2 linked regions of the Homo sapiens genome follow. The protein of the gene in region 1 purifies or fractionates together with the protein of each later gene. This does not show direct contact. Each region holds a gene or a part of one and is shown on either strand. Other genes may lie near its edges.

The links.
Region 2: the proteins of CTAGE6 (region 1) and MIA3 purify together in Homo sapiens (affinity purification with mass spectrometry; 2 studies listed by BioGRID and IntAct, with this or other methods). This does not show direct contact.

What each region holds. Positions count from the first base shown.
Region 1 is NC_000007.14:143,754,025-143,762,860, reverse strand, and holds CTAGE6 (cTAGE family member 6), read left to right. Parts: upstream 1-5,164; 5' UTR 5,165-5,202; coding exon 5,203-7,536; 3' UTR 7,537-7,772; downstream 7,773-8,836.
Region 2 is NC_000001.11:222,662,170-222,668,898, reverse strand, and holds the end of MIA3 (transport and Golgi organization protein 1 homolog isoform 1 precursor), read right to left. Parts: intron 6,647-6,729; coding exon 6,567-6,646; intron 6,442-6,566; coding exon of another isoform or gene 6,370-6,441; intron 4,902-6,369; coding exon 4,751-4,901; intron 3,591-4,750; coding exon 3,280-3,590; 3' UTR 892-3,279; downstream 1-891.

The DNA.
Region 1 (8,836 bases):
ATTACAAGGCAATTCCAGGCTTAAATGGTTTGTAGAAATCATTATCTCAGAAAGAAAGAAATTATTTCTCCATTAATGCCTTTATCACTCATCTGGACACTGACTGGCTATACTTAGGTCGTTTGAACATTCATAGTCAAGTCTTGAGGTCCAGGGCATGGAATGCTAAGACTGGCCATCTGTAGTCACACCTACTCTGATGATGAGAATGGTGGGGTCCCTTGGTTGTCATCCCCATTTCAATCAGAGAGAAAGTAAAGGCAGCTCTCAGAATAAAGATTCATAGAACAGATGAAAAAGCAAAAAAGGCCACTAAAGGAAAGTGAATTTATATATATATTTTTTCACTTTAAGCATATCTTGGGCTCTTGCAATTAGGAAAAGAATAGCTATGATGCTATGTTCTCTCAGTTAAGGGCACTGGTTCTGGAATTCAATGATCTGTTTCACATTCTTGCTCTACCACTTATTCGTTTTTCATTTTGAAATTTAGTTTTCTTCACGTGTCGCTGAAGATTAATTATGAGTATGTGGCTTAGTAATGCGCATTCATCATGGACTTGCAGTGACACTGATCCTTCAGCACAGAATATCCTGGCACACGTTCCTGACCAAAAAGCAGCCATTTGTGGGGCACAAGCCAATATTTATTGCATATTCTTGCCTTGGTCTATCTTTCTGATACTAACACCAAATTTTCTAGGATAGAAGACTTCTAACTCTCAGGAAGTAGTTTGTTTCTCAAAGAGAAAACATGGGGTGTTCAGTTGGCTGTGTGGCTGCTCCCATCTGTAGAGGTGAAGTGGATGTACGTAGTCTTCTATGCTGACAGAATAATTCAAAAGAATGCTTTGAAGGTAAATATATAAATCAGTACACTCCCCCAACTCAATACCTTCATGAAATGTATCTTCATGAAGTCTGCCTATTACATTAAAGCTTTTTTTTTCTTTGACAGAGTTTCGCTCTTGTTGCCCAGGCTGGAGTGCAATGGTGCGATCCTGGCTCACTGCAGCCTCTGCCTCCTGGGTTGAAGCGATTCTCCTGTCTCAGCCTCCTGAGTAGCTGGGATTACAGGTACCTGCCACCACATCTGGCTAATTTTGAATTTTTAGTAGAGACGGGGTTTCTCCAATTTGGTAAGGCTGATCTCGAACTCCAGACCTCAGGTAATCTGTCTGCCTTGCCCTCCCAAAGTGCTGGGATTACAGGTGTGAGTCACCATGCCCGGCCTACATTAAAGTTTTAATTTCCAGGAAGACACTCCGACTTGAAGCAGAGTGATATAGTTTGGATACGTCCCCACCAAATCTAATGTTAAATTATAATCCCCAATGTTGGAAGTAGGGCCTAATGGTAGGTGTTTGGGTCATGGAGGTGGATTGCTCATGGCTTGGTGCTATCCTCACCATAGTAAGTGAGTTCTCAGAGATCTGGTCATTTATAAATGTGTGTAGCACTTCCCCCTGACTCTCTCTTTCTTGCTTTTGCTCTGCCTTGTGAGATGTCTGTCTGCTCCCACTTTGACTTCTGCCATGAGTAAAACCTTCCTGAGGCCTCATCAGAGGCTGAGGAGATGCTCCCTGTACAGTTTGCAGAACCATAAGCCAATTCAACTTCTTTTCATTGTAAATTACCAGTATCAGGTATTTCCTTCTTCCTTTCTTTTCTTTGTTTTTGTGGGCGGAGTGGGGAGGTGGGACAAGGTGCTGATTTTAAAAGATAAACAGGAGTTTTCCTGTTATAGAAAGAAGGCAAAACCATTTCAGGAAACCCTGTTATAGAAAGAAGGCAAAACCATTTCAGGAAACCCTGTTATAGAAAGAGGGCAAAACCATTTCAGGAAGAAAGAGTAGTATTTGTAAATGCACAGAAATATGAACTGTGGTGAAATGTTCTGAAAACGATCATCAGTTTGGAATTGCGGGAGAAGGGGTGCAAAGATGGGAACCTGGAACTTGAGGCAGGAGGTGAAGGCAGACCCAGATGATGAGAAGGTTGGCAACAGGAATTTACTGAAGGATTCTACCTGAAGGCAACAGGAATTTACTGAAAGGTTTTAAGCTGAAATTTATGGTTAATTTGGCAGTATTCTGGGAGACAGCTCAGTTGGGATTGTGGCTAGAGGTAGGGAAACTAGTGAGGAGGCTTCTGGAACAGTCCAGGTGAGAGGTGCTGAGGACTTGAACTTTGACCGTGGGGATAAGAATGGAGGCTGAGGAGTTAGGGAGGTGTTTGCCTGGTGTGGACTCAAGTCTCAGACTGCAGAGCAATGGACGTCCACACAGAAGGCAGTGAAGAGAGTCTATTTCCAGGGGCTTTGAAATGAGCTTGAATGTCAGACTTCTGGCTGACACTATGACTGTCTCATGCAGACCTTCAGACAGATTACTTACTAATAAGGAAAATGGTATAGTCTGAAAGTAATCTCAGGCTCTTTGGAATTATGAAGACAGGGCAAAAGTCAAGAGATGGTATGTTTTTGTGCCAAAGACATGGAGGTCTAATGCTGAACCTGAGTTTCAGGTCTGCCCTTTCTAATCAATTATAAGGTGAACTTCAAACTGTTTATGTCTTTTAACCTCAAGGTTCTGCATCTGCCAAATGGGGGACCGGATAATACTTCCTCCAATCTATTTCACAGCTAGCAAGAAAATACTTGTAAGCCATACTTCACATTCCTGACCAAGTCTCTTCCCTCATGAAATAAAATCATTAAGAAATTTTTAGTAATATTTTAATTATCATATTTTAATTAAAAATTTAAGTATAGAAAGAAGACTGTATAGCTCTACATTAAAAACACATTAGTACATGACTTGGCTACTTGACACCAAAGTAGCTGGTGTCACATTCACCCTCCCACGATAAAAAACTATACAATCTGGACAAAATATAGAAAAAAAATTCTTGGCAGTTGTATTAGTCTGTTCTCATGCTGCTAATAAAGACATACCCAAGACTAGGGAATTTATAAAAGAAAGAGGTTTAGTGGACTCACAGTTCCACATGGCTGGGGAGAACTCACAATCATGATAGAAGGCAAAGGAAAAGCAAAGGCACATCTTACATGGCAGACAAGAGAGAGGGCATGTGCTGGGGAGCTCCCCTTTGTAAAACCATCAGATCTCATGAGACTTATTCACTATCACAAGAACAGCATGGGAAAGACCCACCCCCATGACTCAATTACCTCTCACCAGGTCCTCAGCATGGTTCAGGTGGGCAAGGCTACACGTGGGAATTATGGGAGCTACAATTCAAGATGGGATCTGGGTAAGGACACAGCCAAACCATATCAGCAGGCATTGAAGAACATTGTTGTACCAAGTCAGGTATGAGATCTTTAAGGAAGGTGAGACACATGAGGTTAGTACCACATTTGCCAGGGTTTTCCAGAAAGGCATCTTCCTGACCTTGGTACAGGAAAATGGGACCCAACCAGAGGTTAGTGGTCTTGGTAACCAAAAGAAGCAAAAAATAGAGTTCAAAGCTAATAAGCTGGTTGGGAATTGGGGGTTAATGTACCATATGGGAGAGAGAAAGAACCCTGGAAATGGGTGTGTAAATGCCATTTTGGTCCTTCCGTGACTCTTTAGCTGTGTGACAGTTGGCTAAGAAGAGGAGAGACCTAGTAGAAAGCAACTGCTGGGAAAGCAGAAGAGATCATCAGGGACTGAAAATTTCCTGGAAACCTACTGGGTTTCAGATCCAGCCAGATGGGGAAATGTTGGTAAACAACTGAGAAACCCAGTTGGGACCCTAAAGATTCTGTCTAAGGAGAGGTACAGTATCCTAGGAGTAAGGCATATGTCCTAAGAGGAAAATAAAATATCATTACCATAGCACAGCTTAAAACTAGGTCTTGAGAGCAGCAAGGTGATCTGCAGGTAATATAACATCTGTCCAGAAAAAAATTCAAAATTTTTGGGCATTTCTATATCATATTATCCAGAAACTCAGCATACTTTTAAAAAGTTACCACATACACAAAAAAGCAAGAAATACAGACTCATAAAAAATAAATCAATTATTAAAAACAAATTCACAGATAATCCAGATATTGGAGTTAATAGATAGGGCATCATAATATCTATGATCAATATAAAGGAAAGAAAGAAAAAATGAAAGACAAAGCAGGTCGTGTCCTATTTCCTTCTGGCAGCTCTAAAATGCTCACTTTATTTATTGGCATAGATTTCGATTTCCTAAATTATGTTTGATGTTTCAAGCAAAAATCATAGCATTGTCTGGTGTTAATCTAAATGGATGTAAGACAATGATACTATAAATTTGAGAGGGTAAAGAGACATAAAATGACACAGGGTTGCTATACTACACTCAAACTGGAATACAGATGACACCAATTGACTGTGATAATGTATGTATAAAGGAATATCTAGAACAACCACTAAGCTATAAAAAGCAACCAGAAAACTATAAAAAAGAAGATACATCATAAACACTATGAATAACAAAATGGAATTCTAAAATAAATGTTCAAATAACCCACAGAAAGTCATGAAAAACAAGCAGAGACACAAGAGTTGATAGAGAAAACAAAAACTGTCAGGCTTATGCACTAAAGTATCAATAATTCATTTAATTATGAATGGTCTACCAAGAGACAGATAATAGAAGAGTGTATGTAAAAGTATGACCCTTTCTTATATGTTTCTTGCATGCTGTGTACAAGAAACTCACTTGAAATTTACCAATACAGGGCAGGCCAAATTAACAGGATGAAAAAAGATATATTACACAAACATTAATGAAAGGAAAGCAAGAGTGCCTGTATGTATATCAGATAAAGCAAAGAAAATTACCAGAAACAGATTATATAATGATCAAAGGTTTAATTCATGAAGAAGACAGCAATTTTAAAAGTGTATTCACCAAAAAATAAAGCTTCAAAATATGTGATGTGAAAACTGCCAGAACTAAGGCGGGCCGGGCTCAGACCAGCGCTGCCTCAGGATGTGAAGTGTAACAAGAGGGCCAGGGGAGGTGGTGGGGGACAACATGGGCCTGTGAGGCCTGTGGGTGCCCGCGTTCCCCAGCTCCCCCCGCAGCCCGCTCCACAGTGGTCCGCTCCGGTTGGTTGTCACGTGCGCATTCGGGTTCCAGACCCAAGGCTGCGTGTTCTCCACCGCTTGTTGTGGCCAGTGTTACTGCGGTGACCGCCAGAGCAGCCTCGACGCTATGGAGGAGCCTGGTGCTACCCCTCAGCCCTACCTGGGGCTGGTCCTGGAGGAGCTACGCAGAGTTGTGGCAGCACTACCTGAGAGTATGAGACCAGATGAGAATCCTTATGGTTTTCCATCGGAACTGGTGGTATGTGCAGCTGTTATTGGATTTTTTGTTGTTCTCCTTTTTTTGTGGAGAAGTTTTAGATCGGTTAGGAGTCGGCTTTACGTGGGAAGAGAGCAAAAACTTGGTGCAACGCTTTCTGGACTAATTGAAGAAAAATGTAAACTACTTGAAAAGTTTAGCCTTATTCAAAAAGAGTATGAAGGCTATGAAGTAGAGTCATCTTTAGAGGATGCCAGCTTTGAGAAGGCGGCAGCAGAAGAAGCACGAAGTTTGGAGGCAACCTGTGAAAAGCTGAACAGGTCCAATTCTGAACTTGAGGATGAAATCCTCTGTCTAGAAAAAGACTTAAAAGAAGAGAAATCTAAACATTCTCAACAAGATGAATTGATGGCGGATATTTCAAAAAGTATACAGTCTCTAGAAGATGAGTCAAAATCCCTCAAATCACAAATAGCTGAAGCCAAAATCATCTGCAAGACATTTAAAATGAGTGAAGAACGACGGGCTATAGCAATAAAAGATGCTTTGAATGAAAATTCTCAACTTCAGACAAGCCATAAACAGCTTTTTCAGCAAGAAGCTGAAGTATGGAAAGGAGAAGTGAGTGAACTTAATAAACAGAAAATAACATTTGAAGACTCCAAAGTACACGCAGAACAAGTTCTGAATGATAAAGAAAATCACATCAAGACCCTGACTGGACACTTGCCAATGATGAAAGATCAGGCTGCTGTGCTTGAAGAAGACACAACGGATGATGATAACCTGGAATTAGAAGTGAACAGTCAATGGGAAAATGGTGCTAACTTAGATGATCCTCTGAAAGGAGCTTTGAAGAAACTGATTCATGCTGCTAAGTTAAATGTTTCTTTAAAAAGCTTAGAAGGAGAAAGAAACCACATTATTATTCAGTTATCTGAAGTGGACAAAACAAAGGAAGAGCTTACAGAGCATATTAAAAATCTTCAGACTCAACAAGAATCTTTGCAATCAGAAAACATATATTTTGAAAGTGAGAATCAGAAGCTTCAACAGAAACTTAAAATAATGACTGAATTCTATCAAGAAGATGAAATGAAACTCTATAGGAAATTAACAGTGGAGGAAAATTACCGAATAGAGGAAGAAGAGAAGCTTTCTAAAGTGGAAGAAAAGCTCAGCCGTGCCACTGAACAGCTGGAGACCTATAGAAAGCTAGCCAAAGATCTTGAAGAAGAATTGGAGAGAACTGTTCATTTTTATCAAAAGCAGGTTATTTCCTACGAGAAAAGAGGACATGATAATTGGTTGGCAGCTCGGACTGCTGAAAGAAACCTCAGTGATTTAAGGAAAGAAAATGCTCACAACAAACAAAAATTAACTGAAACAGAGTTGAAATTTGAACTTTTAGAAAAAGATCCTAATGCACTTGATGTTTCAAATACAGCATTTGGCAGAGAGCATGCCCCGAATGGTCCCGCACCATTGGGTCAGCGTTCATCTGAAACGAGAGCTTTTCTCTCTCCTCAAACTTTGTTGGAGGATCCACTGGGACTCTCACCTGTGCTTCCGGAGGGAGGAGGAAGAGGCCCAAGAGGCCCAGGGAATCCCCTGGACCATCAGATTACCAATGAAAGAGGAGAACCAAGCTGTGACAGGTTAACCGATCCTCACAGGGCTCCTTCTGACACTGGGTCCCTGTCATCTCCGGTGGAACAGGACTGTAAGATGATGTTTCCTCCACCAGGACAATCATATCCTGATTCAGCTCTTCCTCCTCAAAGGGAAGACAGATTTTATTCTAATTCTGAAAGACTGTCTGGATCAGCAGAACCCAGAAGTTTTAAAATGACTTCTTTGGATAAAATGGATGGGTCAATGCCTTCAGAAATGGAATCCAGTAGAAATGATGCCAAAGATGATCTTGGTAATTTAAATGTGCCTGATTCATCTCTCCCTGCTGAAAATGAAGCAACTGGCCCTGGCTTTATTCCTCCACCTCTTGCTCCAGTCAGAGGACCATTGTTTCCAGTGGATACAAGGGGCCCGTTCATGAGAAGAGGACCTCCTTTCCCCCCACCTCCTCCAGGAACCATGTTTGGAGCTTCTCGAGGTTATTTTCCACCAAGGGATTTCCCAGGTCCACCACATGCTCCATTTGCAATGAGAAACATCTACCCACCGAGGGGTTTACCTCCTTACTTTCACCCGAGACCTGGATTTTACCCCAACCCCGCATTCTGAAGGTAGAAGCGAGTTCCCTTCAGGATTGATTCCGCCTTTAATGCTACTGAACATCCAGGACCACAAAAGAAACCTGACAATATTGTTGCTTTCTTCAAAAGTAATTTTGACTGATCTCATTTTCAGTTTAAGTAACTGCTATTACTTAAGTGATTGCACTTTTGCTCAAATTGAAGTTTAATGGAATTATAATTCTCAGGATAGTATTTTGTAAATAAAGATGTTTTAAATAGGAATCTTATGAGTAAATCATTCCATTTTATTATTCTAGATCATATAACTATTTTAATTTGGTGAATTAATCCACTGTTATAGAAACAATAATGGGAGTTTTATATATGTAATCTTGCAGGTGGGGAGGCTTTAAATTCTAAAGGTTGTGGTGTCTTCATGCCAAGAACTGTATTCACTGTGGTTGTAGATAAATGTGAAAGTAACTTTATGCTTAATTTAATAAACTTTAGTTGATTTTTTTTTTAAAAAGAAAACTGCCAGAACTGAAAGTAGGTATAGATGAATCCACAATTATAGTTGGAAATTTTCTCTTGCGTTTTTCAATAATGGATAGAACTAGACAGAAAATCAGCAAGGAGTGTTGGCTTTGGCAGCACTTTCTAAAATTAGAATGACACAGACAAGATTAACACGTCTCCTGCATATAGATTACACAAAATTTTGTGAAGCGTTTCATATTTTAAAAGGGGGGAAAAAAAAAGAAAATCAACAAGAATATAAAACAACTCAAAATGCCATTAACCAAAAGAATCTATTTGGCATTTACAGAATATTCCACACAACAACAGCAGAATACACATTTTTTTTGAGTGCTGACGAAACACATGGCAAGATAGAGCTATCCTAGGCCCTAAAACTCACCAGAACAAATTTAAAAGAGATCGTAATCATCCAGAGCAGGTGAAAACCAGAAACCATTGTAGGGAATCCAATTGGAAATCAGCATAAGAAAGATATGAAAATTCCCAAACACTTGGAAATTAAAAAAACACACTTCTAACTAATCTATCGGTCAAAGAAGAAGTCTCAAGGAAAAATTTTAAAAATACATTGAACTGGATAAACATGAAACTGTGACATATCAATGTACTGAGAAGGAAACTTATAGCAGTAAATGCATGCATTAGTAAAGAGGAAAAGTCTCGAGTGAGCAATAGATTTCCACCTCAGGAACCTAGAAAAAGAAGAGCAGAATAAACTCAAAGCAAGTAGAGGGTGGAGATTAATGAAGATAAGAAAAGAAAACACTTATATTTAAAAGAGAAAAAATAGTTAAACCAATAAA
Region 2 (6,729 bases), on another chromosome or scaffold:
AGATATACTGACATTCATCCATATGAAAATATGCAGGTCATTAGCTTACTATAATTTACTTTTGACTTAATGGGGCATAAATAAAACTTTCATAGTACACATGAGGTGGATATTTGATACACAGAACATTTGCGGTGGGCTTTCTGTGGGTTAGATGTAAAGCCCACATATTTTAATATTCACTATTTTAAATGAGCAATGCATGAGGGGAATGCAGTGTCAGTACCTGGCCTATTTTTAAACTAGTGTAATCACCCTAGTCATACCATTCAGTATGTTTGCTTTTTAAAATAAGTAACCACAACTAAGTTGTTGTAGCCCTTGCACTTCAAGAGATCTAGTCTTTACTTTCAGTTGTCTGTTAGGTCCATTCTGTTTACTAGACGGATGTTAATAAAAACTATGCGAGCCTGAATGAATTCTCAGCCAAATTTAGTCTTGTCTCTCATCTTGATTGGATTAATTCCAAATTCTAAAATGATTCAGTCCACAATAGCTCTAGGGGATGAAGAATTTGCCTTACTTTGCCCAGTTCCTAAGACTGTGAGTTGTCAAATCCCTAGACTGTAAGCTCTTCAAGGAGCAAGAGGCGCATTTTCTCCGTGTCATGTAATTTTTCTAAGGTGCTTGGCAGCACTCTGTACCCTGTGGAGTACTCAGTACCTTTTGTTTGATGTTGCTGACAAGACCTGAAAAAAAATCCCTTAAAAAAAAAACCCATTAAAGTGTAGCAAAACCGATGTATTATTTTTTCTCTTTTCTCATAAACCATAAGATATGTATATCAAAATGATAATTTATATGAAGCATCTGCTATCCTTCACATAAGTATAGTTTATATGAACTACAAATACCTTTCATCAACATTAAAGAAGCTTAAATTGAACACTGTGTGATTAACTTAACTTTAATTCAGACCTGAATATAACGAGAAAATGAGTGATTATCTTGAAGTTGACACAGAATATACCACATCCCACGAATTACTTAAATTTACTTTCCAATGAAAAAAATCAGCCATTGGCGATATAACTACAACAACTATGGCAGAAATGCTTTCAGGCTGAATATTGCTGCTTCATAAATAAGACAATTTTAGCAACTAAATCCAGACACAATTAGTTGGAGATGACTTCCAAAATAGATGAAACTTTAGAGATGGAAAAGTGATTTGGCTGAGGGATGATACTCCCTATGCCATCTGCATATTGGCACCCTGCTTTGGGGTTTGCTGCAGAAATGGTGCAATCAGATGGATGTGAGGAAGCAGTTATGGACTGGCTCACAACTTCTCAGAGAAGCTACACTGGAATCTTTACAGCTTACCAGTTTCTCAATTATGTCAGATACAGAATAATCACCAAAAAAGGCTTTAGAGGGGAAAAATACTCTAATATTTTGAATTTTAAAAATAGATTTAATTTACCTTTCCTACTTACCTTCCTAGATGGCATAATCTACACTTAAATGACATTTAAAATTAGAAATTATATTAACTTCAGCATTGTTTTGTGTCCTAAAGAGATATTGACAGGTAAATTCAAAAGTTGTATTTGTGACTTAATCTTATTTTTACATGGCTAAAAGTGGCCTATGCTCTTCTGTGGAGTTTTCCTCTTAATTTCTTCTATTCTTGATATTAAACGGGAGGACATATAGATTGAATTCTCTTTTCCTGAAGAATTTTTATATTCCTTATGAACTTTGACAGAGTTGTCTTCTTTCAAAGGTCCTTATCTTTCTAAACTATCTATCTTCAGTTGTTTAGTATAAAGAGAGAAAATTGTTTCACATTGAAGCTTTTGCTCCTTTTTACAAGGTATTCTTAATCGATTAAATATCACAACAGTGACAAGACATACACTAGGTTTCAAAAATATTACATCATAGGACTTCAAAGAATGGAAGAATATAGCCTAGCAGCAAACAAAAGTATCAGCCTTTTATGATTTTAGTTTTAGTGTGGATCTGAAACTCCTTAAAAGGAGTGCTATTATTACTGTAATTAAAATGTCTGAAGTTCGTTCTTAGAAACGTTGTAGAGTATTTAAAGAAACATTGTTTTAAAGACAGTGTAGTAATGGATAAGACTTTAAGTATGGTGCAATTCCAGATGGTTAGTTACTGATTTTTAAATAAAAACACCAACGTTTAAATATTAATTAATATTAATTTTGGAATAATATCTGTCGCCCCCATTTCCCCCTAAAACAGAACTGATTTCAACCCTTGGTTGCTGACCTAGGGCATGTTATAACCCTCACAGTCCTAAATCATTCTTTCTCATGGCATTATACTCTTCCAATCTTTTTATTATATTCCTCAAAAATCAGTGGCAAGGAATGGGAAAGATAGATAAGGGACTGTACATTTTAAAATTTTTAAAGATTTCTATACTTTTATGGCCATGACACATCATTTTCATTTTTCTGTTGTGCACCCTTTTTCTACAGGAATGGTAAAAACAATGGAACATCAGGTCAAACAACTCTTGCTACTAATGTAAACTCACTCTCAGAAAACCATTCTCAAATAGACAATGAGGATCGTAAAGAAAGCATGTGAATGCTATACAAGTGGGAAATAAACTTCTTTGAAATAAAAAGACGTCACTTGTAGAGTTCACAGGTGACGGAGGAGCAGCCGGAAGTGTGCCACCAGCCACCATCTTCAGTTCTGGGAGCCTGAGTTTACATGTTCCCCAAATGGCACAAGCCTCATAACAGTCCAATGAGTCAACAGACACTTGGGAAATATTAATAAACAAATTTTTATGAGCTATTACTACAAAGAACTTCAGCAAGAGGGGAGATAGTTTAGTGATCTTTTAGTAAACATTTTTAGCGTAACAGTCTTTGTGACCAGATAGTTTAAAAAAACGCTTATAAACACCATTGCTCCGTATTCAGCTGGTGTACACTAAAAATAGGATAATGGAAATACATGTTCTTAAAGCATTTCCACAGGAAATGTTCATATTTTTCATGACATTCTAAATCATTTTGCAATTACATATGCTACATTAGCTAAAACACAGGTATTCTTTATTGCACATTTCAAAGTTGTAAGGACGCTCTAGCTTAAAAGGTGATTTTTATTTAGGGAAGAAATGACATTTTTGAATTGTTTGGCTCAAAAATGCACACTGCCAAGGCAGCTTAGTTCTAACAACAAACCTTTTAAAATAAACTTTTGGATTTTGAAGCCAATGAAATCCTTTACTGTAATGGATAATGCACAGTACACTTTCTTTCCAATGAAACCTCAGAGGTCATAGTTTTATGGGCTCTGTTTTAAAGCCTGTGAACAGTCCTGGCTAGTGCTCTGAGAGGCAGGTGGAGGCTCATCTCTAGAGCCTGACGGCAGTAAGTCTCTTACAGCAGGTGGTGGTGGGTATTCCTGGGGACCATGGGTTGGGGGTGGTAATCGGGTACCAGGAATAAAGTACTCTCTTGGGCCAAGTGAACCTAAAGGTCTAAATGGTGCGTGTCCAGGTAAAAATCCCCGAGGGTGGAGAGGCAGGTCCCGTCTTCCTGGTGGAACGCCTGGTGCAAATTCTCTTAAGCCTAGTGGTGGACGCATACCAGGGCCTGGAAAACAAAAATTATTTCCAGTAAATTCCTAGGAACGTATTTAAATTAAGATAATGCCAGGTATGTTAATATAGTCTGTCATCCTTTTTTTTTTTTTTTTTTTTTTTTGGCGGCAGGGTCTTGCCTGTCACATGGGCTGGAGTGTAATGAGTGATCATGGCTCACTGCAGCCTCAATCTCCCGGACTCAATCAATCCTCCCACCTCAGACTCCCCAGTAGCTGGGACTACAGGTGCACGCCACCACTCCCAGCTAATTTTTGGATTTTTTGTAGAGATGGGGGTTTCACCATGTTGCCCAGGCTGGTCTCAAACTCCTAGGCTCAAGGGATCCACCTGCCTCAGCCTCGTCTAATGAATGCTGGGATTCATAAAGTGCTGGGATTACAGGCGTGAGCCACTGTGCCTGGCCTGCCATCTTTATCTGAAAAAGAGAGATAGATTTGTACTTGGAAGTACTATATACCATACCAAGAAGACAGACTAAATATGGCTTCATTGCAATAAAAATTTTGATAAATTCCATTAACTACTGTGTATCAGTTAAAAATTTATGCAGTAGCTCAAGATGTACCTAATAAATGCCATAAAAATTAAGGTGCTTGCCCTGCTGGAAAAGGCTTTCCAGCTCCATCTAATTAAATTCAGCAGCATTCATTAGATAGCTGTTAAATTCTACCTTCTCTTTCATATCTCCCTTCTTTGTATTCCCAAGGTGAGGGTTGAGGGTTTTGTCTTTCCTTAATATTCTGTGACCTACTGCTTATGCTTCCATTATGGGTGATTAGAAGCTTTATGTTGTAGAATGTGTATATTTGTGACCTACAGGACATCTTAGTTAGGGGATGTATTTTATCTACCTTGCTATCCATTGCAGAGCCTAGTACACAGCCACAGATGTTCAATGTGATGAATATTTCTGGCTTTTTATAAATAGCCCCTTTCCTTGTTCTATTAGAGACAACTATTGCCCATCTAATCACAGGAGATTATGTAGCACCCTTTGTGTCTGAAGAAACTTGGGGAAAAGTTACGGTGTACTCAATCAGCTTCACTGCTGCATTGCAAAGCCCCGCAATTGCAGTTGTTTTAGCAAGGGATAGATGGAGAAGATGAATGTGCTTTACAAGTCAATTACTACTGTTCAGATCATCTTACCAAAGGGTGGAGGAAGTGGCCGAGGCCCAAAAGGTCCGCAGAGCTGAGGTGGTGGTCCATATCGAATGGGTGGTGGTACAGGGCCTCCCATGGGGGTGCTCATGAGAGGGACTCCTGGGAAAGGAGGGGGCCCTTTTGGAGCCATATTAACCTGCAGAGTAGAAACAATTGAAGTTTTGAAATACTATGGTATGACAGACAAAAGCACCAACACCAGTAAAAACTAAAACCCAATGAAGCAGATGTCAGGCACTTGTCCAAAGAGCAGAATTAGTGCAAAAAACTCTACCCCTCTCATTTGTTCCCACTGACAAGCTTAGAAAGGTTAAAAGTATGCCACAGGAGTGAACACTTGCTGTATCATATTATTGCTTACATCTGCAAATGGAAGGGAACGCACAGGTTATAAATGGAGGTCATTCCTGACTAATGATAGAAGTTACGCCATTCATACATCTATTTCTAAGGCAGTCACTCCCTCTGCACATCCCTCCTATCAGAGTAATTTCCATATTAAGAATGCAGAGAATGAAAGGGAATGAAAAATCCATTCTCTACCATGTAACAGCGATTATTCAGAGTACCTTCTGTAGGCCCTACATATATTAACACAAATTCTGACATCTCTAAATCTGTAATAGGACCATCTTGTTCTAAATATGCAGGAACACAGGCGCAGAGAGTATTAGATTTGCTGATGGTCACACAGCATGTAAGAGGCTGGCTGGAATTCCATGCCAGGTTTGACTCCAAGGCCACGTTCTTTCCACCTCTGCTTCTCCTTTCTAACAAAGTAGTCTCTACACTCTTCGAAGTCTCCTACTTCAAAGGGGTCTCGGGTCTTATCCAAGCTGCTCTTGGATAAAAACATTTCTCAAGAAATGTGTATTCCTGGAGTCCTGTGCTGGAACTTGGAAGTATTTTCCAAGAGAAACAATGTTATGTACACAAATTATACAGGCACAGCTCTATTCATCTTCATTCACTAGTAATACTGTCTACTATGAGATACTGATTAATCACTTCCTATGGGAAAGTGGGTTGGAAACTCTCAATCATTAAAATTATTTTAATTTCAATGTCGAGAATCACAGTGAGGTATGATCAGAGGACTTACCAGCCATAACAGCTATACAAGTTACAAGAGAATACACTTATGTGGACACTGTTTAAGGACACTGCTGGGAACTGGCTCAACGGGTAATTATAGACTTCCACTATTCAGTATTTCACTTCCAGCAAACATTCTTCTGTTATCAATCTGTAATTTCAGATCATTCAAAATAGGGTTTGCCTAGTATACAACTGTAGGTATTCTTAAATAGCACACTTCCAAATGAAGACATAATAATGAATTACACAATTTACAATGAATTTACTTTGCCTAAGAGCATTAAACACTGAGACACACAAGAGTGGGGACTTTTCACTTTTGTTTAAGTTAATTACAGTTACAGCAGATGCTCTACACAGGTTAAATGTCTAACCAAACAGGAGAGAGGAGAAAAGGCCAATGAATCCGTCAGATTTCAGCAACACTCCCAAGTCAAGGATAAAAGTAAGATCAATATTGCCATGCAACTTATAGCCCAGTTCAGTCCACACTTCTAAGTACTTACTGCTACTGGACGCTCAGCCAAAGATGTAATGCTGGGAACTGAGGGGACTTCAGGCTCTTGGAGAACAGTTTGCTTTTTTAAAAAATAAATGAGATAGTACAGATAGAACACACAAATAGGAGATGAGGCAAAGAGAGAGTTGTAGGAAGAGCTAAATGTTCCTGAAATAACTAATTATTCAAAATGGGTGCATTTACCTTGCCTTCATCGAGTACCCTGGTAGGGGAAGAGCCTCTTGAGCTGCTGTTCATCATGGTAGCTGTACCAGATCCTGGATCTGTTAAAGACCAGAGAACTGATGTAGACTTATTCTGACTTGTGTACTCTGTGAGGAGGATTAAAAAAAAAATCCTCTCCCCA